Linked DNA regions of Homo sapiens: region 1 is linked to region 2. Evidence: fine-mapped expression QTL. A gene starts in region 2. The other region holds a variant in brackets. All regions are shown on one strand. Distances are between the middles of the regions. Region 1 overlaps CEP57L1 (centrosomal protein 57 like 1). Region 2 holds the start of CEP57L1 (centrosomal protein 57 like 1).

What was found. PIP is the estimated chance that this variant, and not a neighbour inherited with it, causes the effect.
Region 1: its variant is fine-mapped to the expression of CEP57L1 in whole blood (TOPMed, PIP above 0.99). The same link has a PIP of 0.9 or more in monocytes.

The regions. Positions count from the first base shown.
Region 1 is chr6:109,168,663-109,185,383 of GRCh38, reverse strand. It overlaps CEP57L1 (centrosomal protein 57 like 1), which reads right to left. Exons shown (of 11, transcript NM_001271852.3): 11 at 10,966-16,721. It also overlaps the pseudogene CCDC162P. Among named protein-coding and RNA genes, the nearest start is that of CEP57L1, 82 kb to the right of the region's middle. The variant TTCTG/G (reference allele first, on the strand shown) is at 7,378.
Region 2 is chr6:109,086,852-109,103,572 of GRCh38, reverse strand. CEP57L1 (centrosomal protein 57 like 1) reads right to left here and starts at 8,066. Exons shown (of 11, transcript NM_001271852.3): 1 at 7,998-8,066. It overlaps SESN1 (sestrin 1), which reads left to right and starts at 8,727. Exons shown (of 10, transcript NM_014454.3): 1 at 8,727-9,778. The coding sequence starts at 9,500. RefSeq lists silencers at 1,724-2,115, 8,400-9,099 and enhancers at 8,080-8,339, 9,210-9,359.

The DNA.
Region 1 (16,721 bases), 82 kb before region 2:
CTAATTAAAAAACATATGAAATGCTGGTTCTTCAGAATTGTCTTTGGAATGAAGTACTAATTCACCTGCTTACTGCATCTTCTGACCTCTCCAAACCTCTCACCATCCACATTGTGTTTTCTCAATGATTCAACCTAACAGGGTTCTTATATTGCTCCTTTTGATCAGTTGTGGCAGTATCAGAAACAGGGATATGAAGGTCCTGGGTCCATGAGACTTGCCATTAGGGGCTGATCTGTGTCTCTTGTTTCTCTACAATAACTTGATTGCTGTTGTTGGCAGCACTTACCTATAGAAGAGCTCCTAATGAAACAGGCTGGCTGGCTTCCTGTTGTGATCTGCTCTAGAGGAGAACAGAAGCCCCTACTCAAGCCCTAGCTTACCTAACTCTCAGCAAATCAGTAACAAAAGACCCAAGGAGTTATTAACAGCAAGTTCCTACTTTGGGGGGATAGAGACTTCCACAAAGCCCCACAGGTGCAGTTAGAACTAAAACTCAACCTATAGTTACCCCTTCCTCATTTTTGTGCTAAGAATAATGCCTTGGGTGGAGATTTAAAATGCTAATGCTACATTTGATGTATGAAGAAGCATGTTGAGCCACTGTATGAGCACTAGAAACCACACCCCCCGCACCCCGCCATATGTGCCCTGATGTAACCCTTCTCTATCAAAGGATGCTATAAAACTAACGCACACACTACCCTTGGAGAGCATCTCTTTCCTTTTCCTTTCTTGGTGCTGGCTCCCTTGTGCACAACCTGAATACACTTACCTTTGCTGCTGCTCTGTTTGGTGATCTCTCTTGATTTCTATCCTGGGAGACAGCAAGAATCCAGAGTGCTGATAACACTCACAGAACATTGTTTTGCATAATGTATTACTAAGTGCCTACCATTATTTCAGCTTTTAAATTTCTCACCAACATCAAAGTCAAATTCAATTAAAATATTATTGGGTAAAATGAGATCTCCTTTCATTGAGTATGATTTGTATTATAGCTCCTGTAACTTCAAGACAATAGCATTAATTAACATGTAAAAACACTTACATTTTCCTTGGTAAGACTTTTGCTTGGATCTGTCTTAACAAATCTAGAATATAGAAAAATCTTAGAGGTAGCAATCAGGTTAGAAATGGGTACCTGAAACTGCTATTATATACTATTTATCTGAACTGGAGATAATGCCAATTGTCTATGTAAAAAGAAGAGAGGGTGCTGATGTAGATTACGGAGTGAGAGTGGGGAGTAAAGCCCCTGAAGATCACACCTTCTCAGTGCCACTATTTACCTGTAAACTCGATTAGCTGTTCCCTGAAGAGCTCCCTGCTCTTCTATCTCAGACTTCAGTTCAGTCAGTTGCACAGCCAGTTTTTTCTCCAACAGCTGGACCCTTTCTGTGGAAGTGATCTTATAAATTTCATCCATGATTTGTATTTGCTGTTTTTCTGTATCCCTGAAAAAGAGGATCACAAATCTTGATGCCCTCAGTGACCATTATCCAGCATGTTGAACTTTGTCTATCTTTGTCCAAGAAATCATGTCAACTTTGTAGAAATGCATGCATTTTGCTATTAGACTGTTGTCATTTGTGATTTAATTAACATCTAGTAAACAGTAGAGAAAAAGTAGGTTAGAATCTCCACTGGCCATGCCTTTGATTAGCCCAGTTCACCTTCAAAAACATCTCTGCTTCAGCTTTGGCTGTGGGGTTTAATAAGTGAGAATGCACCCCCCACCACCCCTCACCTCTGCAGTCTTGATAAATGTTTGTGGGGATTACACAGTAACTTCTGTGAATGGCAGTTATTGCTGACTTCTAATAGAAAATTGTACTTCCGCATTTGAATGTGTTTTCTTAATTTTGACTGCCTACATTTAGCATACCGGTTTTACCATTAAATAACAGCTGATAACCTCCCACCCCACCTCACCTGGTTCACAGTCTGTCAAATTCAACATAATTGTTTGTTAAGTACTTAGTATCAACATTCTAATTAACAATGTAGATTAACTGCATGACTCAGAAGTCCTGGGACCCATAAGTTGCAGGGGATTCAACAGATGATGTATTTCCTTGTGTTACTGCTGCCCTCACCTGTCCTGGACAAGTATGAGTTAAGTCTCTCTTAGGCCACATTAGAGAGATTTAAAATACTTAAACCTTATTTTTTTCCTGTGATATTTCTAGACTCTCATCTTTCCTTTTGAGATATTTCATTTTCTCAAGTTAATATGCTGTCATTTCAACAAATAATTAAGCTGTAGAGATGTTTTGTGTAGAGGCTTCCTTTGGGAGCCCATTTATTCTTTTTCTAAATATATGAAAAATGGAAATGAGCATCCATGTTCAGTCCAGGTTGTGAACCTGCCTAGTAATAAATCTGTCGTGTTTGGCACGCCATTGGAGCTCAATAAAATGCACTGTTATTGTTCTTAGCAAAAGTAAAATGTTGTTATAGAAAATATTTGCCATTTGGCAGTGTCCTTTCAAGTTGGGCAAACAGTTAAACAGCTGCCTTAACAGCTGCATTCCAATCGGCAGCCAAGAGTGGCAGCAACATAGACTGGCTGATTATTCTCCCAAAGGACGGACATTCTGCCTTCATTTCTTGATCAGTTTCAACACTTCACAGCTCAGAAATGAGAACATTTAATCCTGTACTGTTTAGCTTGCAACACAGTCAAGCACAGTATTCAGAAAATTAACATAAAGGGGTCAGTCTTTGACAACTGTCCATGAAATGAATCCAACCCAGAGAAATACATGCCTGCTGAGCACTCATGTCTAGGTTTAAAGAGACAACTGTTTATTTGGAGGGGTATGGGAGGTGTGCTTCATTTATTGAGAACCTACCGTGTGTCAGGCAAGCACTGGGAACTCATTTAGTCTTAGAAAAGAGATTGCGAGAAAAGAGAATTTCTTCAATCATGTTTTTAAAAATAAGTACATTTAATTATTTGTAATTCATAATTATGTATAATACATAATTTTTATGCATTTAAAACGTGGTTAAAATTTAAGACAAAAATAGTAAGATCAGCTTGAGCAAGGTTTGGGGGTGTTCAATGTGTGGTTACAGCAGGCTTGGATGGGGATAAAGCAGACACGTTTAGAAAAGAAATACTGAGTAACTATTTTAAAAGTTTCAAGGTGATGAGTAAAAGAATAGAAATGCATCTAGATGAGTTCATGTCATTTGTAGGGACATGGATGAAGCTAGAAACCGTCATTCTGAGCAAACTATCGCAAGGACAGAAAACCAAACACTGCATGTTCTCACTCGTAGGTGGGAATTGAACAATGAGAACACTTGGACACAGGGTGGGGAACTTCACACACCAGGGCCTGTCATAGGATGAGGGGAGTGGGGAGGGATAGCATTAGGAGATATACCTAATGTAAATGATGAGCTAATGGGTGCAGCACACCAACATGGCACATGTATACATATGTAACAAACCTGCACGTTGTGCACATGTACCCTAGAACTTAAAGTATAATAAAAAATAGGAAAAAATAAAAATAAAATAAAAATATCCGTACCTATTAAAAAAAAAAAAAGAAATGTATCCTAGAGCTTCCCAAAGAAGTGGGAGTAAGGGGTGAGATAGGACTTTTAAATCCAATAAACGGTGGTCCCCAACCTTTTTGGCAACAGGGATTGGTTTCATGGAAGACAATTTTTCCATGGATGGGAAGCAGCAGGTGGCCAGGCAGAGGGATGGTTTCAGGATGAAACTGCTCCACCTCAGATCATCAAGCATTAGCTAGATTCTCACAAGGAGCACGCAACCTAGATCCCTCACATGAACCATTCACAATAGGGTTCATGCTCCTATGAGACTCCAAATGCTGCTACTGATCTGACCAGAGGAAGCTCAGGTGGTAATGCTTGCTTGCCTGTGCTCACCTCCTGCTGTGTGGCCCAGTTCCTAACAGGCCACTGATGAGTACTGGTCCATGGCCTGGGGACTGGGGACCCCTGCAATAGAAGGTAAGAAAAGTGGTGGTGGGGGGGAACAAAAAGAAGTATGGCAGAATTAAGTTCAAATGTAACAGTAATTATAATAAATGTAAATAGTTAAGCTCATCAAAATACATAAATCAGCACAGCTTCAAGTGTTTTAAAGGCTCCCAAAACTTGATAATGTGATATGTACCAAAATAAAACAATTATTTTTATTCTAGCAAATGCCAGAATTTAAACTGATAAGCATACTGGTCCCATATCACTGTGGGCTAATCCAATTCTCTTTATTGATCTGCACAGATAGATACTCTGTAACCTTGTTGGGTAAACATTTTTGATACGTAGTCATCTTGATCATCAAATGCTTTCAAATCATCTATGCTTTCAAATGAAATACATTACATGCCAGCTTCTGCATTAGTAGGGGTGTGGCTAAGCCATTGTAACAAAAAGACACCATCACCAGTGGCTAAAAGAACAAACTCATGCCTATAATCCCAGCACTTTGGGAGGCTGAGGTGGGTGGATCACTTGAGGCCAGGAGTTCGAGACCAGCCTGGCCAACATGGTGAAACCCCACCTCTACTAAAAATACAAAAACTAGCCAGGCATGGTGGCATACACCTGTGATCCCAGCTACTTAGGAGGCTGAGGCAGAATGGCTTGAACCCAGGAGGCTGAGGTTGCAGTGAGCACCACTCTACTCCAGTTTGGGTGACAGAGTGAGGCTCTGTCTCCAATCAATCAATCAATCAATCAATCAAAGAAAAAAGATCTTTTAAATCTCTCTAACCTAATGGTGCTAATGTAAATGGTCTGGGGTTGTAGAGCAGCCCCACTACTAAATGGGCACTCAACGGCCCGGGTTCCTTCCAAGTCTGCTTCATCATCCCCTAGGCATTGTTCAGATAAACACATTAGTGTTTTCCCTTCATTGTGTCTATAGAACATAGGGGACATGAGATAAATATATTTGATAGTCTGAGTTGAATAACCTGCTTCTACTTCTAGTTTGCTGAGAGGCTTATTTTACTTTTTTCTTGAAAGGGTGAATTATGTCAAATGCTTTTTCTGCATCTATTAATCATGTGATCTCCCTCATCTATTTGTTAATGTGGTTAATTTCACAGATTTTCAAAAGTTAATCCAAAATTGTGTTTTTAGAATAAACTCCATTTGGTCATAATTTGTTATCTTTTTTATAGAAAAATGTATTCAATTTTCTACTATGTTTTTCAGAATGTTTGCATTTATGTTCATGAGAGACATTGGCCTGTCATTTTTCTTATAATGTTTTTGTGAAATTTTGGTATCAACATTATGCTGGCCTCATAAGACATGTTGTGAAGTGTTCTCTATTTTCTGAAGAATGTTTATAATTGCTATATCCTTCCTTAAATACTTGGAATAAATCACCTCTGAAATATAGTAAACTGAAGTTTTCTGTATGGGAGGACTTCAATTACAGATTCAATTTTTTAAACAGATATATAGCTATTCAATTTTCTATTTATTTTTGTGTTCATTTTATTAAGACTTTTAAAAGAACATTTGGATATATAAGCACATTTCATCTAAGTAGATGAATTTTGGGGGGATGTGAGGTTTTTCATAGTATCATACTTTTTAACAGCTTTGTTGAGATATAATTAACACAACATCTGATTAACTCACATGAAATGCACAATCAATGATTTTTATTTAGTATATTCAGAGTTGTGCAATCATTACCACAATCGATTTTAGAACATTTCATTACCCTAAAAAGAAACCCTATTGCCATTACCAGCCACTCCTCATTTTTCTCTAAGCTACCTCTTCTTCCTAACAATAAGCAACCACTAATTGACTTTCTCTCTACAGATTTGTCTCTACAGATTTATATGAACATTTCATATCAACAGAACCATACAATATGTAGTCCTTTGTGACTGGCTTCTTTTACTTAGCATGTTTTCAAGGCTCATCCTTGTTGTAGCATGTATCAGCACTTCATTCATTTTCAATGGCTGAATAATATTCCATTGAACAACTATACTACATTTTATTTGTTCATCAACTGATGGACATCTGGGTTGTTTCAATTTGGGGGCAATTATACATAATATTGCTATGAACATTCATATACAAGGTTTTGTGCACATCTGTTTTCATTTCCCTTGAGTATATGTGTAGGAGTGGAATTACAGGGTAAATATGTTTGACCTTTGAGAAACTGCCAGACTTTTCCAAAGTGGTTGTACCATTTTACATTCCAATCAGCCATGTATGAGAGTTTCAATTTCTCCACAGCCTTGCTAACACTTGTTACTATCTGTCTTTTTAATTTAAGCCATACTAGTTGGTGTGAAGTGGTATCTTATTGTGGTTTTAATTTGCATTTCCCAGTGGCTAATGACGTCAATCATCTTTTCACATGCTTATTGGCCATTTGTATGTCTTCTTTGGAGAAATGTCCATTCAGATCCTTTGCCTATTTTTAATTGGATTATTTGTATTTTATTGATGAGTTGTAAGAGTTCTTATATATTCTAGATACATGTCCCTTATCAGATGTACAATTTGCAAATATTTTCTTCCATTCTGTGGGTCATCCTTTCACTTTCTTGATGTTGTCCTTTTAAACTTCTTATCTTTTTAATATTTATAAAATGTGTAGTGCTGTCTCCTTTTATATTCCTGATATTGGTAATTTCTGTACTTGTCTTTTTTTTTTTTTTTTTTTTTTTTTTTTTGAGATGAAGTCTTGCTCTGTTGCCGAGGCTGGAGTGCAGTGGCACAATCTCAGCTCACTGCAACCTCCGCCCCCCATGTTCAAGTGATTCTTCTGCCTCAGTCTCCTGAGTAGCTGGGATTACAGGCAGGTGCCACTTCACCTGGCTAATTTTTGTATCTTTATTAGAGACAGGGTTTCACCATGTTGGCCAAGCTGGTCTCGAACTCCTGACCTCAGGTGATCCGCCTGCCTTGGCATCCCAAAGTGCTGAGATTACAAGCATGAGCTACCGCGCCCAGCTTGTACTTGCTTTTATCTTGATCAGTCTTATTAGAGATTTATCAATTTTACTAATTTTTTTCAAAGAACCAGTATTACTGAGTTTTCTCTAGGTTATTCATGTCTGCCTTTTCTTTTACTGATTTCTGCTCACCTAACTTAGTAGATCATTGCTTTTACTATCTTGAGTTTAATTTGCTTTTCTTTTTCCAGCTCTTGAGATGGATGTTTAGATAAATAATTTTTAACCTCTCGTGTAATGTATTTAATATTATAAATTTCCCTCTAAGCACTATTCTAGCTACATCACAGAAGTTTTTAATGTTGTGTTTTCACTATATTTTAAATATTTTCTAATTTCTATTATGATTTCTTCTTTGACATAAGAGTTATTTAAAACTGGTTCT[TTCTG/G]TTATGGTTTCTAGTATGATTCCACTGTGGCCTGAGAACATATTCCGTATGACTTCAATTTTTAAAAATATGTCAAGCTTGCTTTATAACCCAACATATGGTTATTTTGGTAAATGTTTCATGTATACTTGAAAAAATGTGTATTCTGATGTTGGGAATAGTGTTTTATATACGCCAATTAGATCATATTGGCTAGTCATGTTGTTCAAATCTTTTATATCCATTGATGTAATCACTGATTTTTTAAAGGATATATGAGCTAGGTATATTAAAATCTTATTACAGTGAATTTACCTATTTCCCCATTTTGTCCTCAACACATTAGTTATATATATATATATATATATATATATATATATATATATTTAATTTTTAATTTTATTTTTTGAGACCGAGTTTTGCTCTTGTTGCCCAGGCTGGAGTGCAGTGGCACGATCTCGGCTCACTGCAACCTCCACCTCCTGGGTTCTAGTGATTCTCCTGCCTCAGCCTCCCGAATAGCTGGGATTACAGGCATGCGCCACCATGCCTGGCTAATTTTTTATTTTTAGTAGAGATGGGGTTTTTCCATGTTGGTCAGGCTGGTCTCAAACTCCTGACCTCAGGTGATCCACCTGCCTCAGCCTCCCAAAGTTCTGGGATTACAGGCATGAGCCACCACACCCGGCCCATTGTAAGGTTTTTATTCTTTGGCTAGTGTTTTTTTTTTTTTAACCGAAGATTTCTACCCTTTTAGAGGTTTTAGTTTAGCTCTTTAACCTCCTGCAGCTTCAAAATCTGGCAAACGTCTAGAGAGGAAAACTGGCCAAGTGTTTTGTGCTGGCTTCCTCTCTCCTGTGGGGTGTTGTCTCCTAAGCTAATCTCAGATTTTACCTGCCTTTCCAACTTCCTTCTTAGGTGTGCCTTCTGAGCCTTTTGATTGATAGATTGACATTTCTCTTTTTCCTCATCTCTGAAATTCTGTCCTTCAAAGGTTCGAACTTAGTTTCCCACCCCATGAAAGTTCAAAATCTGGCAAAAATTTGAGGGAGAGAACTGTCGTATATTTGACGCAGTTCCTCCTTCTAGCAGGGTTTATCTTTTAAGCATGGCAAGACTGCAGATTTTACTTTGCCTTTCTAGACCAGCCCCCCAGACTCCTTCACACCTTGGCATTCAGCAAATATCCAATGGGTATATTTCAGACATTAGATTCAACTCTGCCATTCCTGCAGCCATGGCCTTCAAAAGTCTCCCTGGCTTCTGTTTGTCGCATTTGGGTTCTTATGCCAAAACTGTCACTGTGACTAGAATTGGTAGATTGGCTAAGGAAGCAAATAGCCAGGGACTGTCAACTCACCTAGGAAGGCTCTTTCATTTCTGGAATTTTGGTTCTTCTAGTCTTTGTTGCTTCTATAACCTTCCAATGTCTTTCAACATATGACTGTAACTTAACTGTTTTCATGATGTGGCCTTTACTAAATCTTACCCAAAGTAGCCAGGCACAGTGGCTCATGCCTGTAATCCCAGCACTTTGGTGTAATCTTGGCTCACTGCAACCTCTGCCTCCTGGGTTCAAGCGATTCTTCTGCCTCAGCCTCTTGAGTAGCTAGGATTACAGGCGCACACCACCACGTCCAGCTAATTTTTGTATTTTTAGTAGAGACGGGGTTTCACCATGTTGGTCAGGCTGGTCTTAAACTCCTGACCTCATGTTCCGCCAGCCTCAGCCTCCCAAAGTGCTGGGATTACAGGCATAAGCCACTACGACCGGCCCCAAAGAAACTTTCTTAAACTTTGGCTCCCACCGCTCCATATTATTGTCTCTTTTACCTCAAATAATAATAAACCACCTCATTATCTGTTCATGGAAGCATTTTTTTAAAAAATTACCAAAGATCAAAAGAAGCATGTGTGAAAGCAAAATGTACACACTGCTCTGCTGTTATCAGAGCATTATCAACATGTACATTGTAGTCAGAAAATATCTTGCACCCTGAGAGAAATAAGCAAACAAAAACAGGGTCACTGTCATTCATTTTCCCAAAATAAAATAATCCTTAAGTTTTGTTTATAATTTACTAATTCCTTTAATAAAAGCAATTTTATTGCCAACTTTTGCAATGATAATAGATGAAAATCTGTGATGATCTTTGTGGCTATGACAATCATGTGAGAAAATCGCTGTCTTTTCTACCATGATTGGACAACTACAAACTTGGTAATACTGGTAATTTTGTGGGTTTTCCTTTTTTTTTTTTTGTATTTTTTTATTTGATGAGCCAGTTCTTTTAAAACTTGGGAGTTGCTTGCAAACTTTCCTTGAAAGTAAACTTTCCCCCCTAAATCCTTTGTCTATATTTCTTTGACAATTGTGTAGATTCCTCTAAGATTTTGTGTATGCATCAACCAGGGTAAAGTCCACCACATTGTCCATGAAGAGCAACTCAAGGGCTGTTCGAGGTATACATTTTCCAGTCTTGAGGCAATAAAGTCTTCATCTAGTTGATTCAAGTTCTTTTTCTGGCTCTTCATATGTTTTTTGCTTCCTGGCCAAGTCTGCGTTTGACACTGGTTCTGATTTGTAAACAGCCACTTATTTCTCCTTTGGTGGCAGCAATGTTGAAAATACACATTTTAATGGTCGATCCGTTCTTTGTGAGGCAACAATGACAGGACATCTGATTGTACTTTGTTTTTGTCTTGAGGATTCTGTTATCTTCTGTCATCTAAGATACATCTTTTCTTTGCATCTGGGTCTTAAGACATGAGTTTGGTCAAATTGATAGGTTGCATTAGTAGGTTGGAAAGTTGCTCATATTACTCCCTACATCACTGATTTACTTTCTTTCTCATCTTCTGACCATTGACGAAACTTGTTTTTCATTTTTTTGTGCCACTATGAGTTCAAATCAATTAAGAAAAATATTTTTGTGGCCACTGGAATGCAGAGAAGCCCTTGGAGATCTGGAGCTGCTACCATTAACCAATGACTCACGCTTTTTGTACTTTTATTACATTTGATCCATCTGTGGCTAATGTTATAAACTAAGGCTGGTAGTTCTGTGTATTGCTATTATTTTTTGAGATAGGGTCTTGCTCTGTCTCCCAGGTTGGAGTGCAGTGGCATGATCATGGTTCACACGGCCTCCATCTCTGGGGCTCAAGCAATCCTCCCATCTCAGCCTCCCAAGTAGCTGAAACTACAGGCATGCATCACTATGCCTGGCTAATTTTTAAATTTTTTTTGTAGAGATGAGGTCTCACTATGTTGCCAAAGCTGGTCTCAAACTCCTGAGCTCAAGCCATCCTCCCACCTCAGCCTCCCAAAGGACTTGGATTACAGGCGTGAGCTACCACGCCCAGCCTGCGTATTAATTTTTAAAAACCATCTTTTTTCTCCTCAAAAAGGAAGGCATAGTTCTTTGTAATAGTCCATTTGTAATTACACAGCTTTCTTTCTCCAAAGTCAATGTCCTTTCTCCCTCAGAAATATGCTGGAGATTGAACAGTCAGAAAAAAACATCATTTGAACACACTATTTAGGGATATCTAACTCCAACAGACAAATCTACCATGAAAAAGAACAAAATATACACAGTGAACAAACTTGGAAATTGTTTTTATGTAACTTTAGAGCAAAGGGTAGAAACTTTACAGAAGGTTTTGCTTGGTTTGTGTAACCATTCTACAAATAAGCCTGGATCTGTGATGGGATGGGAATGATTGCTGCCAGCTTGTCTGGAACATTATGACCTCTGCAAGAAATCTGAAAAGTTCTCAGTGCATAACATACTCTCTCCCTTCTCAAAAGAAAAGAGTAAAGTATCCATCTTAGACACTGTAATTTATATCCATTAGGCCCTATCTCCTAACACTGCTTCATTGGAGATGGTTTCCAACACAAGGTTTTTTTTTTTTTTTGAGACCAAGACTCACTCTATGGCTCAGGCTGGAGTGCAATGGCATGATCTCGGCTCACTGCACCCTCTGTCTCCTGGGTTCAAGCGATTCTCCTGCCTCAGCCTGATGAGTAGCTGAGACTACAGGTGCATGCCACCACACCCAGCTAATTTTTTTTTTTTTTTTAGTAGAGACGGGGTTTCACCATGTTGGAGGCTGGTCTCAAACTCCTGACCTCAAGTGATCCACCTTCCTTTGCCTCCCAAAGTGCTGGGATTATAGGCGTGAGCCACTACGTTCAGCCCCAACACATGGCTTTTGAGTGACATATTGAAATCATAGCATGTGACTGATTTCTATTTCTAATGGACACAGAAAAATTCTGCCGGGCACAGTGGCTCATGCCTGTAATCCCAGAGCTTTGGGAGGCTGAGGTGGAAGGATTGCTTGAGCCCAGAGTTTGAGACCAGCCTGGGCAGCAAAGTGAGACCGCGTCTCCTCAAAAAAAAAAATTTTTTTTTTTTTTTAATTAGCCAGGTGTGGTGGCATGCACCTGTAGTCCCAGCTACTTGGGAGGCAGAGGCAGGAGGACTGCTTAAGCCCAAGAGTTTGAGGTTGCAGTGAGCTTTGATTGCATTCACTCCACTCCAGCCTGGGTGACAGAACAAGACCCTGAAAAGAAAAAAAAAAAAAAAAGAAAGGTAGGGGGCGGGCTGAGGGGGAAGGAAAGGAAAGATTCCTTTCTTCTTTATCTCAAACTCTCAATAGGCCACCCTTGAATAAACTGGAAGGAAATAATATTCTTTAAATGGTCTCATGTTCCAACTGACCTTTTAGGATTCAGGAAAAAAATTAATAAAAATTATTAATATAACTTGTAAGTAATACAGTGTCAGGAAAATGCAAAAATAATACTGTAGAAAATGACACAATTAAAAAGTACACAAACAATGGTATACATGGTTAAATATTACACAAAAGTATCCCTTTACTTTTCACAGACATGTGGCTATTTGCATAGGTTCAAAAAAAACATGTTCTCCTTCCTACCAGGCAATAATTAACAAATCACTTTTGTAACCATCACCATGCCACACATCTCATTAAAGTAGATATGGCAAACCCATTATTAAGCAAAGCAGTCCAAGCAACTTGGCTGAGGTAAATTGACCGGTTCTTGGTTCCTGACTTCAGTATAGTATGTGGGCAGTATCTTACACATAAAGAAATGACAACCTCTTGGGCTTGAAAAAGCCTCCAGACAAAGTTAACTCCTATGTTGTAGTAACACATGGCCCTAGTTTTATTAACTAGACTTATAAGAAGGTCTTTGTATACTAAGCGTAACCTTTTATCACACTCACATAATAAAACTAGTCATCAAACTAATGATACTAAATCAGAAAATCACTAAGCAAATTTATGGCCAATTCCATGCTTTAGGAGGAAATTTGGAGGCAAGACTGACACCTTAACCAGAGGCCATGATAGGTAAGCAATGCACATCACTTTTGGGTCAGAAAACAAAAAACAATACCGCAGTAAAGGATCAACATAGCAAGTCTTGATTGTGTAAACTTTTCACATTCCAAAGAAATGTTTGTCCTGTGTCCAGATTCAAGATAACCTCTAAGTCCTTGGACTATCCTGCCTGATATGAATGTTTTAATTTACTTGGGGGCCTTAGGCCATACCAGGTAGTCTAAGCTAACAATGTGATTAATGGTGAAGTCCTTAGGCCATGTAGTATCAGCTCCATCTTTGGAGGGGCTGAAAACTGAAGGTCAGCCACATGGGCTATCAGTCATGCTATGCCTACGTGACCAACCCTCAAGAAAAAATCTGGACACCAAGGCTTGGTGGAGCTTCCCTGGTTAGCAATTCTCCAAGAATGTTGTCACACATTGTTGCTGAGAGAATTATGGTCTGTCTGCTGAGAGAATTATGGTCTGTCTACATGACTTCACAGGTGAAGGACAACTGGAAGCTTGTGCCTGGTGTCCCCCAGACTTTGCCCTATGTGCCTTTTTTCAGCTGCTGATTTTAATATATATTCTTTTGCTATAATATACCATAACCATAACTTAACAGCTTTTCTGAGTTCTGTGAGTCCCTCCAGTGAATCACTGATCCTGAAGGTGGTCTTGGGGACCACCCGAGATAAAACACTGAGGTAAGGTTAACAACAAAAACAGTCACCACACTGTCTAGTTCTCATTTCCCATGTAAATGAAACCTTGAGCCTTTCCTGTAAATTACTAATAACTATATCCCTGGTCTTGGCAATGCTGATATCTAAGGATACATGATGACCTCTGATATGATGATTATCTGAGGAAACTGTTTTCCACCATGAAAAGAATAACTAAACTTGGTGACTTTGGTAATTTTGTAGGTTTTTTCATTTTTTAATTTGATAAGCCTGTCCTCCTAAAGCTTGTACTCCCTTGCAAGACTTCTTTGCATATAAACTCCTAAATGCTTTAATCTTTTAGTGGTTTATGTTTTTTATTTCTGTAGATGGTAGTTTAAACTGATAGTATTTTAGTAGAACGGTTTAAGAGAATCAAACTCTAGGCAGGGCGCGGTGGCTCACACCTGTAATCCCAGCACTTTGGGAGGCTGAGGCGGGCAGTTCACCTAAGGTCAGGAGTTCGAGACCAGCCTGGCTAACACGGTGAAACCCCGTTTCTATTAAAAATGCGAAAAAAAAAAACAGCCGGGTGTGGTGACGCATGCCTGTAATCCCAGCTACTTGGGAGGCTGAGGCAGAAGAATCGCTTGAACCTGGGAGGCGGAGGTTGCAGTGAGCTGAGATCGCGCCATTGCACTCCAGCTTGGGCAACAAGAGCGAAACTCCGTCTCAAAAAAAAAAAAATCAAACTCTACTTTGTGGCATTATTTATGGGAATGCTCTGAGAATGAGAAATCACAGGCAAATATATCATACCCAAACACCAAAGGCACAGCCCTCTTTCGACTTGAGAGCCATTCTGTAAAAGAACAAAGAAAAAAGAACCTGTTTGAAATTTTGGCTTAAGTGTCCACCATTTAAATCATACCTTGAGAGAATCAAGAATGTAATACTGATATAAATTTTTCTAAGCTTATAAAGGAGAAGTTATATACATAAAATAGAATAAGTTTTTTAAAAAATCAATTATTTTTTAGATTAAAGTAAAAGCAGATATCTTTAAAGTAACTTGTTTTTAACTCTGGTACTGACTTTCCCAGCTTTAAATTGGTAGCTTGGTTCATTTCAGGGAAAATGAAGGCAATAATGCTTTTTATGTGTTCAAGCATTTCAACAGTGCTATTCTCTCACATGTATTACATATTTTGGATAAGCTATCTCTGAAAATATTTTGTAAGATATTAAAGATACTTTTGCTAGAAATTGTAAGTTATAAAACCATAAATGTTCCACAGACTTCTCGAGAGCTTTTTAAAATTTAATTTTAAGTGGGTTTCCTGTGCACCAAAATGGTTTATGTTTTAAATAACACATTTGTAAAGTTAAACGGATCTACAGTGATGAAGAGTGAAATACTTTCCAATTCAGCAAGATTCTGGACAATTGCCCTGTAAACATCAATCTTGTATTTCAGGCATGAAATGATTCACATTCTGTACTAGGTTCAGTAACAGGTTTTTCTAAGAAATACCAAAGGTCAATGTACATTTAACTTTAAGGCAAACTAACAACAACAACAACAACAACAAAATGCCTCTCAAGGTTTTTTAGAACCTATCCTAAAATTTACTTAACTACATTAAGCCAAGTCAGGTTGAAAAGTACATTATTTTACATTATTTTAGCTGATTGGAAGGTCTGGCTCACTTTACAATCCTCTGTTCTTAAAGACTAAGATTTCTTTCTTTAATTGTTTAGGTTAACTTTAGTAATTTGTAGTGGTGAATAAACTTCTACAAGTGGGTAGAATCCCATTACAATGGGATTATATTTGGTGGCCTTATTATTGCTCATTACCCTATAACACTTCTTCCTACCTTCTGACCATTGTCCAGAGCAGAGTGGCTTTGCTGATATGGTTATAAGAAATCTATTAAATAGGATATTAAAGGCCAAAGAAATCCTCTCAGGAGTTAGTTTATTTAATGAAGCTATCTTTCAGGTAAGATATTTATCCACTTATTCATTTTAAAATATTCAATCAGGTTGATTGCTGAGTAAGATGACATGTTTTTAAAGAGTACTACATTGGTGGTATTATCAGGTTTTTAATTTTCATGGTGCCACTGACTGTTGATGCTCGGAAAAATAGGGTTTGTCAAATAACAGATCTTTGCTCTCTTCAGATTGGAGACATGCAGATAGTTTTTCTCCGACAAATCTCACATTCTTATTGGTTGTAAAACTGTCTGAAGCACCTACAGAGCAAATTTCTTTCTTAATCATAAGACTCATGCTTGGTTAGATTTTACCAAGAGGTAGCATAATGAGGTCATTTTGTTAAGGGATTCATACTGAATGTATTTATTTGCCCACATTAGAAAACCAGTATTTCTCTAAGGTAAGTTGGCTAGTGTTTGAAAATTGTATTCTATAGACCAGGAAATGCAACAGTATTGATTAAAATGAGACTTGTTATCTGTAAAACACATGAAACAATATTTCTGGGATAAACAATAGATTGGCACATCCATAACAGGGGACTTGGGAGTATTCCTATTTTAAATTGGCTATTCCACTTTTCTCCACACCCTTCAAATTCATTCTCACTGAATACTTATTAAAAGCCAACTTTTTCTTCCCTAAAAAACATTTAGGGCTACATTAAAAATGACAACCCGTACTCACAAAGTTTCACAAAACATAAGCTACCTTAATTATGTGTGATGCACTCTGATCTTTTTTTTTTTTTTTTTTTTTGCTGATGGAGCCTCACTCTGCTGCTCAGGCTAGAGTGCAGTGGCACAATCTCAGCTTACTGCAACCTCCGCCTCCCTGGTTCAAGCAATCCTCTGGCCTTAGCCTCCCGAGTACCCGGGATTACAGGCACATACCACCATGCCCGGCTAATTTTTGTATTTTTAGTAGAGATGGGATTTCACCATGTCGCCCAGGGTGGTCTTGAACTCCTGAGCTCAGGCAATCTGCCCGCCTCGGCCTCCTAAAGTGTTAAGATTTTACAGGCGTGAGCCATCGCACCTGGCCACATTCTGATATTTTCAATACTATTTTATATCATTTAAAAAATGCTGGCCAGGCATGGTGGCTCACGCCTGTAATCCCAGCACTTTGGGACACTGAGGCGGGCAGATTGCCTGAGCTCAGGAGTTCGTGACCAGCCTGGGCAATACAGTGAAACCCCATCTCTACTAAAATACAAAAAATTAGCAGGGCATGGTGGTGCACACCTATAATCCCAGCTACTTGGGAGGCTGAGGCAGGAGAATTGCTTGAACCTGGGAGGTGGAGGTTGCAGTGAGACGA
Region 2 (16,721 bases):
TTCCTGAAAGATGGAACCAAAATAACATAGAAAAAAGGGGCATGGTATTCTGAGAATAGTATGTATGACAGTGTTTCAGAAAATATGTTTTTGAAGGGCTGAAAAGAATATCATTCAAATCAATCTTGTTAAGGAATTCAAATCGACCTTGTTAAGGAAAACTTAAAAATAAAATATACAGATTCAAATTAAGAGCCTTTATGATTCATTTGGGCAATACACATATACCCCACACATAAAAGTACACATATAGTACTTGGTTGACAAGACATTTTTCAACAAGCCAAAAGAAAAACTAAGGAAGCATTTAGAGGCAAAACTGCTTATGCTACTATACAGTAAATAATTAGTATAATTTCCTTTAAAAACTTAAGTTGAAGTCAGTTATCATAGAAAGAGATATTTTAAGTTTACATGGCTTCAGTGTTTCATTGTAGAGAAGGGTCAAACTATTGTGGAAAAATCACAGGTTGATTTTTGCAACCTTGTAAGACTAGGCAAAAAAGTAGCAAAAAAACAAAAACAAAAACCAGCAATGTAGACAAGTAACAAGGTAATTCAATTGGAGAATAATATTCTTAATTGTAGAAAGTCTTCCTAACAATTTTCACTTACAGCACTCAGCCAACTGCACATGCTGACAACAGATAACTAAAATGGAACTGTTAGTCCGGTTTCCTGATACATTCCAGATAAAGTTCTCCCTGGCCTCATCTTTAGGCTGACTTCAGGTCTCTCTCTCAAGGAACAGTTTTGAAGAATGGCACCAATATAGTTGTACAGATTCAGTATAATGGTCTTTAAAAAAAAGTTTTTCACCTTTTAATATTATTGATCAAAATAATAATTTCAGATCCAGCAGAAACTTTTTAATAAAAACATAAATCTAGGCACAGACCTTATACCTTTTACAAAAAAAAAACTAAAAAATGGATCATAAACCTATATGCAAAACACAAAGCTGTAAAAGTTCTGGAAGACAGGAGAAAATCTACATGACCCTGGGTATGGCAATGACTTTTTAGCTACAACACGAAAAGCATGATACATGAAAGCTGGACTTCACTAAAATTAAAAATTTCTGCTTTGCAAAAGACACTATTAAAGAATGAACAGACAAGCCACAGACTTGGAGAAAATATTTACAAAATGCAGGTCTGATATAGGACTTGTGTGTCCAAAATATACAAAGCACTCTTAAAACTCAATAGTAAGCTGAGCGTGGAGGTGCATGCCTGTAGTTCTAGCTACTTCGGAGGCTGAGGCAGGACTGCTTGAGCCAAGGGGTTTGAGGTTACAGTGATCTATGAAAGCAACACTGCACTCCAACCTGGGTGACCTAGGGAGACCCTGCCTCTAAAAAACAAAAACACTCAACAGTAATAATAATTTAAAAATGGACAAAAGATCTGAAAAGACACCTCACCAAACATGATACACAGGCAGCAAATAGGCGTATGAAAAGATGCTCAACATATGTCATTGGGGAATCACCAATTAAAACAATAATGAGATACCATTACATACCTATTAGAACAGCTAAAGTCCAAAACACTGATACCACCAAATCCTGGCAAAGGTGGGGCGCAACAGGAACTCTCATTCATTGGTGGGAAATAGAAAATGGTACTGCTGCTTTGAAAAACAGCTGTATGGCTGGGCGCGGTGGCTCACGCCTATAATCCCAGCACTTTGGGAGGCCGAGGCGGGCGGATCACGAGATCAGGAGATCGAGACCATCTTGGCTAACACGGTGAAACCCCGTCTCTACTAAAAATACAAAACATTAGCCGGGCGCGGTGGCGGGCGCCTGTAATCCCAGCTACTCAGGAGGCTGAGGCAGGAGAATGGCGTGAACCCGGCAGCGGAGTTTGCAGTGAGCCGAGATGGCGCCACTGCAGTCCAGCCTGTGCGAAAGAGTGAGACTCCGTCTCAAAAAAAAAAAAAAAGAAAAAAGAAAAAGAAAAACAGCTGTGAGTTTCTTACAAAGCTAAACATAGGGTTACCTGAGATCCAGCAATCATATTCCTAGATGAGTTAAAAATTTTTTGCCCAGAAAAAGCCTGCACATAAATTTTTAGGACACTTTATTCATAATTGATAAAAACTGGAAGCAACTAAGATGTCCTTCAAAAGGTGAATAAGCAAACTGTGATATATCCATACAATGGATTATTTTTCAGTGATAAAAACAAATGAGCTCCCAAGCCATACATATAAAGACATAAAATAACTATAAATGCACATTGCTAAGTAAAGGAGCCAGTCTAAAAGGCAACATACTGCATGATTCCATGGTCCATGACCAAAGTTAGCAAAACCTCTCAATATCTGTTCCCTAATTAATTACTCTTCTAAAATGTAACTGTGAAAATTTACTGATCTAAAGAAGTTCTTCTAAATTCCATAACATCTATTGATATGTTGCAGCAAAAAAGGCAGACTGTTTTGTTTTGTTTTTTTCCTAAGACAGAGTCATACTCTGTCGCCCAGACTGGAGTGCAGTGGTGCGATCTTGGCTCACTGCAACCTCTGCCTCCCAGGCTCAGGCGATTCTCCTGCCTCAGCCTCCTGAGTAGTTGGGACTAGAGGCGTGTGCCATGATGCCTGGCTAATTTTTGTACTTTTAGTAGAGATGGACTTTCACCATGTTGGCCAGGATGGTCTCGAACTTCTGACCTCAGGTGATCCACCTGCCTCAGCCTCCCAAAGTGCTGGGATTACAGGTGTGAGCCACCATGCCCAGCCAAAAAGCAGACATTATGAATATAAGAACTCTGAATTAAACAATGTGAAACTGTATCACATTAAATAAAATTTTATGTGACCAGTAATTACATTTCCTAGGCTACAGATTCTGTAAACTTTCTTTCTTTCTTCTTTTTTTTTTTTTTTTTTTTGAGACAATCTCACTCTGTCACTCAGGCTAGAGTGCAATGGAACGATCTCAGCTCACTGCAACCTCTGCCTCCTGGGTTCAAGCGATTCTCCTGCCTCAGCCTCCCAAGTAGCTGGAATTACAGGCGCCCACCACCACGCCTGGCTAATTTTTGTATTTTCAGTAGAGACGGGGTTTCACCATCTTGGCCGAGCTGGTCTCAAACTCCTGACCTCAAGTGATCGGCCCACCTCAGCCTCCCAAAGTGCTAGGATTATAGGCATAAGCCACTGTGCCCGGCTTTGTTTTTTTTAGGACGAACTTTCTAAAATGTTTTTATTATAATGTACCCTCGTCCATCCATTAATTACTTTGTGTTTTTGTAAATGATAGATAAATATGCCATACCTTTGAAAGTTCTGTGGCATTATATCATTCTTCCATTCATTCATTCCTTTATTCTTGCGTCACACATTTATTAAGTTTGTACTAGGTACCAGGCACTGTACTCAGAGGTAGAGATAAGATGATCAACAAAAACAAGCACAGTAGTTCCTCTTGTGTGCTTAAGCTCTACTGAAATAAACACACTTTAATCAAATCATGGCACAACTGCAAAACTAATTGGTAACATAAGAGCAACTCAAGGTTTACGGTGCAATAGGTCTATTTACAAGAAGAGTATTTAATTAGATCAGGGACACCTCTGAGAAAATGATTATTTGAGCAAAGACCTGCAAGAAGAGGAGTTAAAGACAGGCTAGAACAATCTGGACAAAGAACACAGTAAAAGAGTGCTGCATCCATACTCGCTGTCTCCCATACTCTACTAAATAAAAGTACCCATTGTTGGGCACGGTGGCTCACGCCTGTAATCCCAGCACTTTGGGAGGCCGAGGCGGGTGGATCACGAGGTCAGGAGATCGAGACCATCCTGCCCAACATGGTGAAACCCTGTCTCTACTAAAAATACAAAAATTAGCCGGGCATGGTGGCGGGTGTCTGTAGTCCCAGCTACTCAGGAGGCTGAGGCAGGAGAATCACTTGAACCTGGGAGGCGGAGCTTGCAATAAGCCGAGATAGCGCCACTGCACTCCAGCCTGGGCAACAAGAGCAAAAACTCCTTCTCAAAAATAAATAAATAAATAAAAATAAATAAATAAATAAAAGTACCCATCTGGCTTTTGTACCCTTTACTCCACCAAAAGTTTCTTATCAAGATCCCAATGACCTCCATGTTGCTAAATGTACTGGTCAATTATGAATCCTCATCTCATTTGACCTACAGCAACATTTAACATAACTTATTTTTCCTTCCTCCTTAATTACTTTCTTCATTTTGCTTCTAGAACACCTACTGAACAGTGGGTTTTTCTCTGCTCACTGGCTGCTCCTTCAGTCACCTTTGCAGAGAACTCCAAATCCACCCAAACTCCATAGAATATCACTTTTGGTGATATCAACAACTCCTATCAAAACACTACTATAAAATCCAAAATTATATCTATTGCCAGATCTTTCTCCTCACTTCTGGACTCATTTATTCAACTGCCTCCTCCACCTCCACATCTCAATGTGAATTTCTTAGAGGCATCTCAAACTTAACGTGGCCAAGCTAAAATACCAACCTTTCCTCTCTCTCCCATTCACAAATCTGCAGATTTTCCCATAATAGTAAATGGCACTTCCTCCATTCTAGTTACTCAGGTTAGAAACTTTGAAGCCATTTTTGACTCTTACTCTCACACAATCTGTCAGCAAAGTCTGTTGGCTATACTATCAAAATGTATCCAGATTCTGTCACCTGGATTATTACTTTAGTTTCCTAACCAGTCTCTCTGCTTCCACCCTTGCTTCCCTATGGTCTATGCTCAACACAATTTAAAAGAAATATTCACTTCAGGCCAGTTGCAGTGGGTTATGCCTCTAATCTCAGCACTTTGGGAGGCTGAGGCAGGAGGATCACTTGAGGCAATCACTTGAGGAGTTCAAGACCAGCCTGGGCAACACAGTGAGATCCTGTCTCTACAAAAAGACAAAAATTATCTCAGTTATGTAATTTCAGTTAAAAAAAAAAAGGAAAAAATACAAAATTAGCTGGGCTTGTTGGCACGTGCCTGTAGTCCCAACTACCTGGGAGACTGAGGTGGGAGGATTACTTGAGCCCAGGAGTTCAAGGATGCAGTGAGCTATGACTATACTCCAGCCTGGGTGACATAGTCAGATTCTGTCTCAGGAAAAAAGAAAGAGGCCGGGCACGGTGGCTCACACCTGTAATCCAGCACTTTGCAAGGCTGAGGTGGGTGGATCACTTGAGGTTAGGAATTCAAGACCAGCCTGACCAACATGGTGAAACCCTGTCTCTACTAAAAACACAAAATTAGCCAGGTATGGTGGTGCATGCCTGTAATCCCAGCTACTTGGGAGGCCGAGGACGAAGAATCACTTAAACTTGGGAGGTGGAGGTTGCAGTGAGCCAAGATTGTGCTATTGCACTCCAGCCTGGGCAACAAGAGCAAAACTCCGTTGAGACAGAGGGAGAGAGAGAGAGAGAGAAAGAGAGAGAGAGAAAAGTAGTCATTTTTTAAAAGTCAGATCATGCCCTCATCTGCGCAAAACTCTCCAATGCTTTCCCAACCCAATTAAAAATGTTAGTCCTTTCAGTCACCTACATGTTCTCCTACCATTACTTCCTTTCTCTGTGACCTCATGTTATTCTCCTCTTTGTACTCATTGTGCTCCAGCCACACTAGCCTTCTTGCTATTTCTCAAATGCGCACTCAGGCTTCTGCCCAAGGCCTTTGCACTAATTCTCTTCATTAGAATGTTATTTGCCCAGGCATCTACATGGTTTATTCCCTCCCCTACTTCATATCTCAATTGTCCCCTTCTGGATTATGTCTTTTCTAACAACCTTATTTAAAAGTGAACCTTGCCCCTCACATCCTGGCACTCCCCATTCCCCTTCCCAGTTGTTTTATTCTCCACTGCATTTGTCTTCATTTCATTTACTAAGTGTTTTACATATTTATTTATTATCTCTCCTCAGTAGAATGCAAGCTCTATGACAGTAGGAATTTTTATATATTGTGGTCAATGCTGTATCTTCAATGTCCTGTTATATAAAAGGGACTCAACAGAGATTTGTTGAGTAAACGCGTGGGTGAAATGGAATATGAGAACCAATGACTGAAAAATGGACTGTATGGCTGATCTGGAGGGCAATATATGAAGTTAGTCTGAAAGAGTACCAGATGATGTCAGGCTTTATAAAGGAGTTTTGTCTTTAACAGTAGTAGGACACCACTGAATAGTTTTAACCAAGAGAAAATCTGATCAAATCTGCAGTTTCAAAAAATCATTCTGGCAGATATAATGGAGAACTAATGGAGGAGGGTCATTGTGAATAATTGCTACTGTAGTGGTCTTGAGAGATTATCGCAGTTTGAAGACAGGTGGAGAGAAAAATATATTTGAAGGATATTTTGAGAGATAAGGTTGGCAGAACTTCATAATAATTTGGCCATAGAAGTATGAAGGGCAAGAAGAAATAAAGAATAATGTTTAGCTTTCAAATTTTCACAAGTAGATGGATAGTAGTGTCCTTTGCTGAAATAAGGAACACTGAAAAAGAATTAGATTCATAAGAGATAACTATGCATTTGGTTTTAGGTATGTTGAGTTTGAGATGCTTTTGAGATATCCAAGAAGAAATATCCAAGAGATATTGTGAAAGCTGAGAGGTGAAGCTGAATGGAGCTATTCATTTGAGAGTCATAGGTGTTGGTGAAGCCATGGGTATACATGAGATCATATTTAACTACGGCATAAAAAGGCACCCAGCCTTAAGAAACTACCCGACCCTTTATGGGCTGGATAGAGAATGAAGATCCCAAAAAGGAGATGAAAACGGAATGGTTTTTGTTTTGCTTTTTCAATCACACTCATAAGTTATTCCCTTTTTAAAATTCAGATTCAAACTAGAAGTGTCAGAATGTAACAAGGCTTTTGAAATTAGACCAATTCATCAGAACTATGCATCTATTCAAAAATAGCTCACTTACAGAAACGATGTAAAGAATTCACAATACCTGTCTCTTTGTAGCTTCTAAGTGCATCAATACACAAAAAGCACCCTTCCCGTCCCACCCCACACCGCCAAGTATGCATGATTTGGCTTACTGACGTTTCCTGAAAGTACCCTATCTCTCACTCTGGGCCTTAGCATATGCTGTTCTTTTGGTCTTCATTTCCCCTGGGATGAAGATTTCCCTGACTTTCCAAGATTGGGCTAAGTCATCTCCTTCTAGACATCCCAGTGATATCATGTATTATTGTAACCGTATGTCTAACAACTAGTTCCTCTAACTAGTAAGACTGTCTTTTTCATTGTTGTATACTCAGTGCCTAGCAAGACGAAATTTTTAGAATTTAGTGCAATGCAATTCTGCAATGTAAAGAATTAAAATCTACACCGATTATCAGTCCACTGATGGCCGTTCAAACCTCGACTTTTCTCAAATAATAACTTTTTAAAAGCAAACTAATTTTAAGCAAATGACTGAATCTTTTGAAAAAGTCGACTAAGTTTTGGAGACTTTTACGGTTTTGCTTTCTTTTTCCTGCTGTATCCTTAAAGCCTGCAAGAATTCCTATCTAGGAATACTGGGGATTCTTTTACGAGATGGATTTGACAACTTGCTTTCAAAGCCCTGCCTAGGATTTCATTTGACTGAGCAAATAAAGCCCAGAACATCCCTAAGCAAAGGCAAACAAAGGTGCAAATGCGCGGAGATCCCAAATCCACCCCGCGTGTGTCCACAAAAAAGGGCGGAATCAGAGGCAGCAGCGCGAAGCTCCAGTTTCCACAGCATCCTTCCTTCTTGGCCTTACTTAGGCCGCTCCCTGCGACCCTTGGGATCAGGATCCCAAATCCTTGCCTCACCCACCACACCCCGCGCTTGGGCAGCTGGACTAGTCCTTCCCACGCAAGTCACTGGAAAAAGTCCTTGGACTAAGGGAGGCCACCCTAGATGGCTTTGTCTCCAAAATCCCAGAGGAAATGGAGGAAGGAAAAACCCTGTCAAGGAAAGGTGACAACCCAGCTTACAGTGCTTACCAAGCAGACGCTCTCAGTCAGCCCCTGCCACCGCTAACCGTTGGTTCGCGGGCACCCACAGGCAACGTCGCGGTGGCCCCTGGGGGTTGTAGTTTCTGTCGCAAACAAAACGCGCCGGCAGCATCGAAACTACATTCCCCACAAGTCAACGCGAAGACGTCCTACCGACTTAAATCTGGGGTTTGGAGTAATGAAGAGGCCGTCACTACTTTTAGGGTGATCTTAAATGTAGACTCAATTTCTTCCAGGAGTCCCTTCGCGCCCTCTTTCTTTGTCGTGCTTGTTTTATGTGTGACGAAGTCTCAGTGTACTTCTACGTCTTACTTTTTCCTTCCCCTTCTCCAGGACAGAGTCCAAACGTCCGGGAACGGAAACCGCCTCAGGGCGCAAGCTTAGCGCCTCCGGGGGCGCTTGGCCCAGTTCGCAGTCACGCATGCGTAGCAGCCGGCAGTGGCTGGCAGCCGCGCGCGGCGCACTTGGGGTCCGGAGGGTAGCCTGCCAGAGGGCGGGGCTTTTTCCTAAGGCTTTGCCTCGGCGGGTCGCGTCTGCCTGGGCGGGGAAGAAGGCGCTGGGGCCGGGGCGGCTCCCGGTTTGTGCCGGGCGGAGAAAGGGGAGGGGCTGGGGGTGAGGACCCCGTCTCCACTCCCTGCTCCCGCCCTCTGGGCTGATCCCCACCGATGGGGCTGGGCGAAGGGCGGGCTTTGCGCCTCGGGCCCCGCCGCCCCGCCAGCTCCGCGGCCCAGCCTGGCGCTCGAGGATTGCCAGGGCCGCCCTGTGCCCTCTGGCTCGGCGGTGGTGGGCGAGGGCTCAGGGATCGGAGAAGTAGCGTCTTCCCGGGGGTGCCGAATTGGCGGGGCTGGGGGACGCTTTTTTTCACCGCCGCCCGCCGAGACTACGGCTGCCCGAGACTGCCGCCCTCCGACAGCGCCCAAGCCTCCGGCCGCTGCGGCCAGTGGGCCAGGGTTCGGCGAGCCTTCCCTGCCGGCGCCGGCCGGCTGCTGAGGCGCTGGGAGGAGCTGCGGAGGGCGGGGACTGGTGTCGGAGAAGGGGCGGGGTGGGAACGCCGGAGAGAACCCGGTGGCTGCACAGACAAAAAAGCCCCGAATGGCTGGAGGGCGTTCAGCTGTTAACAGCCTTTTGGGGCAGAGCACGGATTTGACAGCTCCACAACGTGAGGATATCCACTGACCCCGCGAGACGGAGGAGAACGCTTCCCCGAAATTCTCTGCCCACCAAAGCCAGCGCTGCAAGGTTGCAACTTTCAAACTTTGTTTTTCCAGAAAGAAGACTGCCCTTTCGTGTACAAGGAGAGGGTGAGAGGGTGACCTAGCTTGTAGATCGGCTGAAGGCACCAGTGGTTCCAAATGTCACCCAGATGTGTGTTTTCATGACGATTTGATTTCTCTGATTTTATTTTTACATTTTTCATTTTAAAAATACAAAGCAATTTTTTTGGGGCATGCTGAAAGGTAACTGAAGACCGCAAAGGAAAAACTATTGTCATGGCTGAAGGAGAGAATGAAGTGAGATGGGATGGACTCTGCAGCAGAGATTCAACTACTAGGGAGACAGCATTGGAAAACATTAGGCAAACCATTTTGAGGAAAACCGAGTATCTTCGTTCGGTGAAAGAAACACCTCATCGTCCATCAGACGGGCTTTCAAATACCGAGTCTTCGGATGGGTTGAATAAGCTACTTGCTCATCTGCTTATGCTTTCTAAGAGGTGTCCCTTCAAAGATGTGAGAGAGAAAAGTGAGTTTATTCTGAAGAGCATCCAGGTAAGGAAGAGCATTTTAAATACAACTATGTCTCTACTACAGTTAAATTTTACTTGCCGTTATTCACGTTGTGTTTGTTTCTATTAGGTTGTTATGTAAACTTTTATTATGAGTTTACATCTTTAGAGTGTTCTGTAAGTAAACAAGTAGTGTTTTTCTAGAGTTTTAGGCAGAAACTGCTTTGCTCCTGGAAGAATATATGAAAACTACAGTTAATTCCAAGTAAATACTTGTTTTTCCTTATATTTCTTTTTACATGTTGTTGGAAAATGTAGCCAGTGTTTTTTTTTCACATTGTCACAGTGTTCTGAGTGTAAAGGCTCACATTTAAAAGCCTCTAAAATGATAAAGGATATTAAATGTTTCCTAGTCAGCCTGTTCAAGATAATTGGTGGAACAATTTTCTCTTATTTTTAAAAACAAAACAAACCAGGATGTGTTCTCTAAATGCAACCTCTCTTTTTTCAAGAAGAGAATTATATAAAATAATAAAAACCTATCTTAAAAGAAGCTAATATCTTCATGTTGAAAAGGTGGACCCAGGTGGGGTATTTGATAGAAACACTTTTATGGCAAATTGCTCAACTAGCTTTCTCTGTGTTTGCCTGAATTGTTTCTTTTTCACATGTGTAGCTATTTAAGATACGAGTGCAGCAGGTTAAAAATATTATAGTTTTTCCTCCATTTCGTTCATAATTTATCCTGTTTTATTACAAGGTGTCTTAGAATACTTTTTTTTAAGTTTTTAGATATTGACAATATTCAGCAACACCTTATATATGCTTGTCAATCTTTACATTTCTCAATCCACGTGTGTTGTCCAAAGTCCTGTATGAGAGATTTTTAAAATTTAAAATGTACTTGGGTAACTATGTAAGTTAAAAGTGACAGTTTTTATATACTGGCTTGAATTTAGTTTAAAGCAACAGAAAAATAATATCCACAAAATGAAGACTCTATTTAAGATCTTGGGATATTTCTTCTCACTAACACTTTGGAAACAATTGTTACAATTCAGAGTTACCCGAGAGGAATTAATATACTAGGTAACTGAAGTTTACCCTTTGAAACACAAAAAGTTATTTCTCTATCTTCTAGACTGTAGTGACTGTAACAACCATTTTTGTCCATAATGGGGTCATCATTATGCATATCAACTATTGTTGTGCAGCAAAGGGTGGAGGACTGACTATATGATCCATTAGTTTTTGTATTTTTGTGTGTAATTTTTATAGTTTTTCTGTTCTTTCCTTTGCCGTCAGGATACTTGACTTTGGTCTCTTCCTGATCTTTCATTTTGCTGCTTAATTCATATTAGAATGGGAAACCAGATAACCAATCGTGTTAAGAGTTATATTGAAAATAAAAGTAAGCAGGCTCTGGGGAGCATAGTATCAAAGGATTTCAATATAATGATAAATAAGTGGGTACTGGAGTCAGAGTTGGGCTCAAATTCCACTCCTTTACTAATGTCCTTGCCTGTAACCTTGGGCAAATTCCTTGACCTTTCTTAGCTTGGATTTCCACATCTGTAAAATGGGAATAACAACACAGAGCTCTTGTGGGAATTAAATCAGATGTAAAGTACTCTGGTATATATAGTAGATGCTCCTCTCCCTTTCATAAGTGAAATACATAGACTATGCAATATATATTTCAAGACTCTTTCATCCTGCAAAAGGACTCAGGAATTTCCTGGGAAGGTTCCCTATAGACTTATACTCTTTTTTTCCATCTCTGCATCTATTGTACAATTATAAAAGGCAATTTACTTATATTGTGTTATAAGCACATGCTTTTGTGTCTGTCTCCCATAGGAAGGCTATGAGTTCTTAAGAGTACTGGCTGGGACCTGGAAGCTACTAAATAAATATCCAGTGGATGAACAAATTTATACTTTCTTTCTGTTTTTCATCAGTAGTCTGAATAGATGAAGTTTTCAGTTTAGGGAGTTTCCACCCCAGCATCATTCATTTATGCTTGCAGTTATGCAACAAATGTTTATTGAACTCCTGCTGAATGTCATTCTGAGAACTGAGGACCAGTGGTAACAATTTTGACATCATACCAAAGGGAAACAGACCATAAAGAAGTAAACAAATATAAAATTTAATTTTAGATAGTAAGGGAAAGCTTTCCTGAGGCAATGACATTTAAGCAGAGACATGATAAATGAATAAATATTACCCATGTAAAGGTGAGATTTGTGAGGGGACATTCCGGACATAGGGAACGGTATGTATGAAGGCCTCATGCCAAGGAGAGCAGATGAGTTCTAGGAGCTGAAAGTAATGCAATATGGCTGGGGCAGACAGTTTGAGGGTGGCGTGAATAGCTTAAGAGGACATACTCTGGAGTTTGGCAGACCTGGCTGCGATACTGTCATGTGTCACTTAATGATGGTGATACACTCTGAGAAATGCATCGTTAGGTGGTATCATATTTGTTTGAACATCATAGGGTGAAATCACACAAACCTAGATACTACACACCTAGGCTATGTGTTATATAGCCTGTTGTTTCTAGGCTACAAACCCGTACAGCGTGTCACTGTACTGAATACGCTTTGGCAATTGTAATGCAATGGTAAGTATTTGTGTATCTAAACATAGAAAAGGTAGAGTAATAATATAGAATTACAATTGACCCTTGAACAGCATAGGTTTGAACTGCATGAGTCCACTTATAGGAAGATTATTTTTTCAATAGAAGTTATACTAAGTTGGGCGGGGTGGCTCACACCTGTAATCCCAGCACTTTGGAAGGCTGAGGTGGAAAGATCTCCTGAGGTCAGGAGTTGGAGACCAGCCTGAACAACATAGCAAGACCCATCTCTACAAAAAGTCAAGAAAAAAAAATTAGCTGGGTGCAGTGGAGCACACCTGTAGTACCAGCTATTCAGGAGGCTAAGGCAGGAGGATCGCTTGAGCCCAAGAGTTCGAGGTTGCAGTGAGCTGTGATTGTCTCATTGTCCTCCAGCCCTCTGGCGACAGAGCAAAACCCTGTTTCAAACAAACAAACAAACAAAAGTTACACTTGAGTATGCCTGCCTCTTCTGCCTCTCCTTCCGCCTATTCCACCTCTATCACCCCTGAGATAGCAAGACCAACCCCTCCTCTTGATCCTCCTCCTCAGTGTACTCAAAGTGAAGACCGTAAGAATGAAGATCTTCATGATTATCCACGTCCACTTAATGAATGGTAAATATATGATCTCTTCATTATGATTTTCTTAATAACATTTTCTTTTCTCTAGCTTATTTTATTGTAAGAATACAGTATATAATATGTATAACATACAAAATATGTGTTAATTGACTGTTTATATTATCAGTAAGGTTTCCAGTCAACAGTAGGCTATTGTTGGCTAAGTTTGGAGGGAGTCACAAGTTAAACACAGATTTTCAACTGTGTGGAGGGTTGGCCCCCTAACCCCCTTGTTGTTCAAGGGTCAAGTGTGTAATCTTATGAGGCCACTGTTGCATATGGGGGTCCATCATCAGCTGAAATGTTACGCAGTATGGGACTGTACTTTATTAACTCTACAACTTTGAATAAGTTACATAATCTCTCCTTGATTCAGTTTCCTCATCTGCAAAATGAGCATTATGCTTATGGTTCCTGCCTCACAATGTTGCTGTGAGAATAAAATAAATGATGTTTGCAAAGCATAGCACAGTGCCTAGCATAAAAGAAATGCTCAGTTAATGTTAGGTATGCCTGCTATTACTAGGCAGAAACCAGATCCCAGAGGGGCTTATAGGCTATTTAAGGGTTGTGGACTTTATCATAGAAATAATGGAAGCCACTGGGGGATTTTGAGCAAGGTAGTATAGTGATTGATAGTGTGTCAGAAGGATCACTCTAGAGAATGGATTTCCATGGTCAAAAGTGGATGTGTGACATCAATTAGGAGGTTGTCCTACTAGCCTATGACAAAAGTGATAGTGGACTAGGATGTGAGGTAGGGCAGGAGGGAGTGGAAAAAATTAAAATGGGTCTGATAGATATCAAGGAGTTAGAAACCACAGGATATAGTATTTAGTTGGATTTAGAAGATGAGGAAAATAACAAAATTAAGCATGGCTCTAAAGTTTTTGGCTTGAGGTACTTGGTGAATTGTGCAATTGTTTTCTGAGACAAAAGAGTGGCAGGGGGTCAATTTAGGGGAAAAATGACTGCTGTTTTAGACATGTTGAGTTTAAGTTGCCTATGAGACATCCAAGTAGAAATAGCTCCTAAATGAATTTCTGCCCCCGATACCGCTGTTCTAGTTCTGTCACTGCTATGTCTTCTTCTCCAGATTAAACTCACCCTCCACTTTTATATCTATCCTCCACATAGCTGTAGAGCCATTTATCTAAAATGAAAATCTATGTAACTTTACTGGCAAAAGCCCTTTAGAATAGAATTGAATTTAAACTTCTTAATGTCATATAGTACCCAGCATTATCTGGCTTTCACTTACCTCTCCAGCTTCACTGCCTACCATTTTAGCATCAGCCTCACATGAGAAAGCAAATATTAATTCAAATGTAGCACTCCATAATGCTTTCTGTTATTCATTAGTAAAGCAGCAAAAGCTGTGGTGCATATGCAATTTCTGCAGCTGCTCCTGAAAGCCCTTAATTGCTATAGGTCAGCTAAAAGGGCTGTAGTTGGCAAGGGAGAAACGATGACAAGGTGGTAGAATGAATTCAATTCCAAGCAGCTAAATCTGTTAAAAAAAAAAAAAATGGACACATTGGGAGATAGCATCTTTTGTTTATACCCCAGTTCTCAATTTATTGATTCCACATCAGCATGTTTAAATATATTCACATTTTTGAGAAATATTCTGGGCCAGGCAGTCACTGTACTTAGGACTTGAAGATCAGTAAGACTTGTTTCCTGCTTTTGAAGAAGGTTTTCTATTCTCATCCAAGGCTTTATACTGGGTTTTTAAAGAAACTTTAAAAAGAAGAATTACACCTTTTGATACTCTTGATTCTCTAAACAAAGGAATGGGAGTATTAATACTGGCCCACTTTCCTAATATAGTCTACTGGTGAACTATAGTCTTGATGATACATGTAATTAAGGAGGAAAATATGAGAGCACATATGTATCAAAAGATTTTGAGGCCTATCCAGAATAGCCAAGTACTTTTCCAAGAATGGTCATTTGGTCATTTTCATAAGTTTGCCAGCAATCAATATTGTCTGAAAGTAAATTGGCTTAAGATAGAAAATTTAGAATAAGCAACAAAATACTTATCTTTGGTAAGTGGGGTGGTGGAGGCTTTCATTTAGTAAAGTGATTATTACCCCCCCACCTCCAGGAGAAATGAAACTTTCGTTGCTGGGTAGGATGCACATTTATAGCTGTTAGAGTTACAGTTGGAGTTGCAGTATCTAGTTGCTATCCAATTGAGTAATAAATAGATTGAAAATGTAACAATAAGTTTATTATTTCACATAATAAGTCTGGAGGTTGGCAGTTCCAAGCTTGATTGATTCATTGGCTCAACTACATTACTTGTCTGCTTTCTTTTTTTTGTTCTCCTTCCTCAGCATAGCAAATGATGTCTCCATTCCTACAGCATGCTATTCCAGGCACCATGTGCAGACATGACTATCTGCAGCTAAGAAGAAAAGAGTTTCTTCCCACGTCTCTCTCTCGGGGAAGAAAACCTTTCCCAGAAACCCTCTAGCAGACTTCCTCTCAGTTTCTATTGACTGGGATTGGGTCACATGCCCTTTTCTAAGCCAGTCATTGATGAAGAAATTGGGCATTTCTATTTTTGGTTTGGACTAATCAGCATTCAGCCCCTAAGGACCAGGAGACCCGCCCCCTGCCCCCCCATCACTTGAACAGAAAATTTCTCGATGAGGAGAAGCAGTACAGAAGGCAGTCAGGCCTAATTAGAGGCTTCCATTAAAACTGCATGTGTATCTAACTAGATAATATATCACTTGGTCTATTTATAATTTGGATCCGATTAGATTAGAAGCATACTTAATTCATTTTTAGTGGGGCTATAAAATATAACAGATTGGAGACATTCTAGAAGCAGATTTGGTCTTTTTAAATGATTGTTTTGTTTTGATTTTTTTTTAACTGCCATTTAGTGGAGCCAAAAGTCTAAGGTAGTGCATGTCAAACATTCACTGCTGACTCTTAGATATCACAGCAAATATGAGAGTCCTCTTTCAATATTTACACTAAGCTTCTCTCTTCCATACCACTATTTTCTGGCCTTTCTTATTTTATTGATACGTTGTGAACTCGGTCCCTTTCCCTCAGAAAGCCTTGTGGCTTACTTCTCATTGCCTCCTCTCATTCGTGTCTTTGACCACTTTCCTTCCTTGCTTTTGAGGCTCAGAGAATATTCTTTATTCTCAGGTTTTCTGTCCTTCTTTGGATAAAGAATGTGAAGAAACTGAAGGCAAATCTTTAACTTTTTTTTTCTAAATTGTTTGAAGACAGCCAATTTTTTTTCACTTTCTGACTTACAGGAGGAATCATATCTGTACTATCTATACTCAGTGTCTTCTTTATAATATATAAATACATCCTGTCCTATGTTTTGACTCTTCAGAAAGATCAAAATTAACAACAGTACTCTTTATGTGTTCAGATTTCGTCTATTTTATTTTATTTATTTTTGTTTATTTATTTATTTTGAGATGCTGTCTTGCTCTGTCGCCCAGGCTGTAGTGCAGTGGCACGATCTTGGCTCACTGCAACCTCTGCCTCCCGGGTCAAGCAATTCTCCTGCCTCAGCCTCCTGAGTAGCTGGGATTACAGGTGGGCGCCACCACGCCCAGCTAATTTTTCTATTTTTAGTGGAGACAGGGTTTCACCATGTTGGCCAGGCTGGTCTTGAACTCCTGACCTTGTGATCCACCCATCTCGGCCTCCCAAAGTGCTGGGATTACGGGCATGAGCCACAGTGCCCGGCC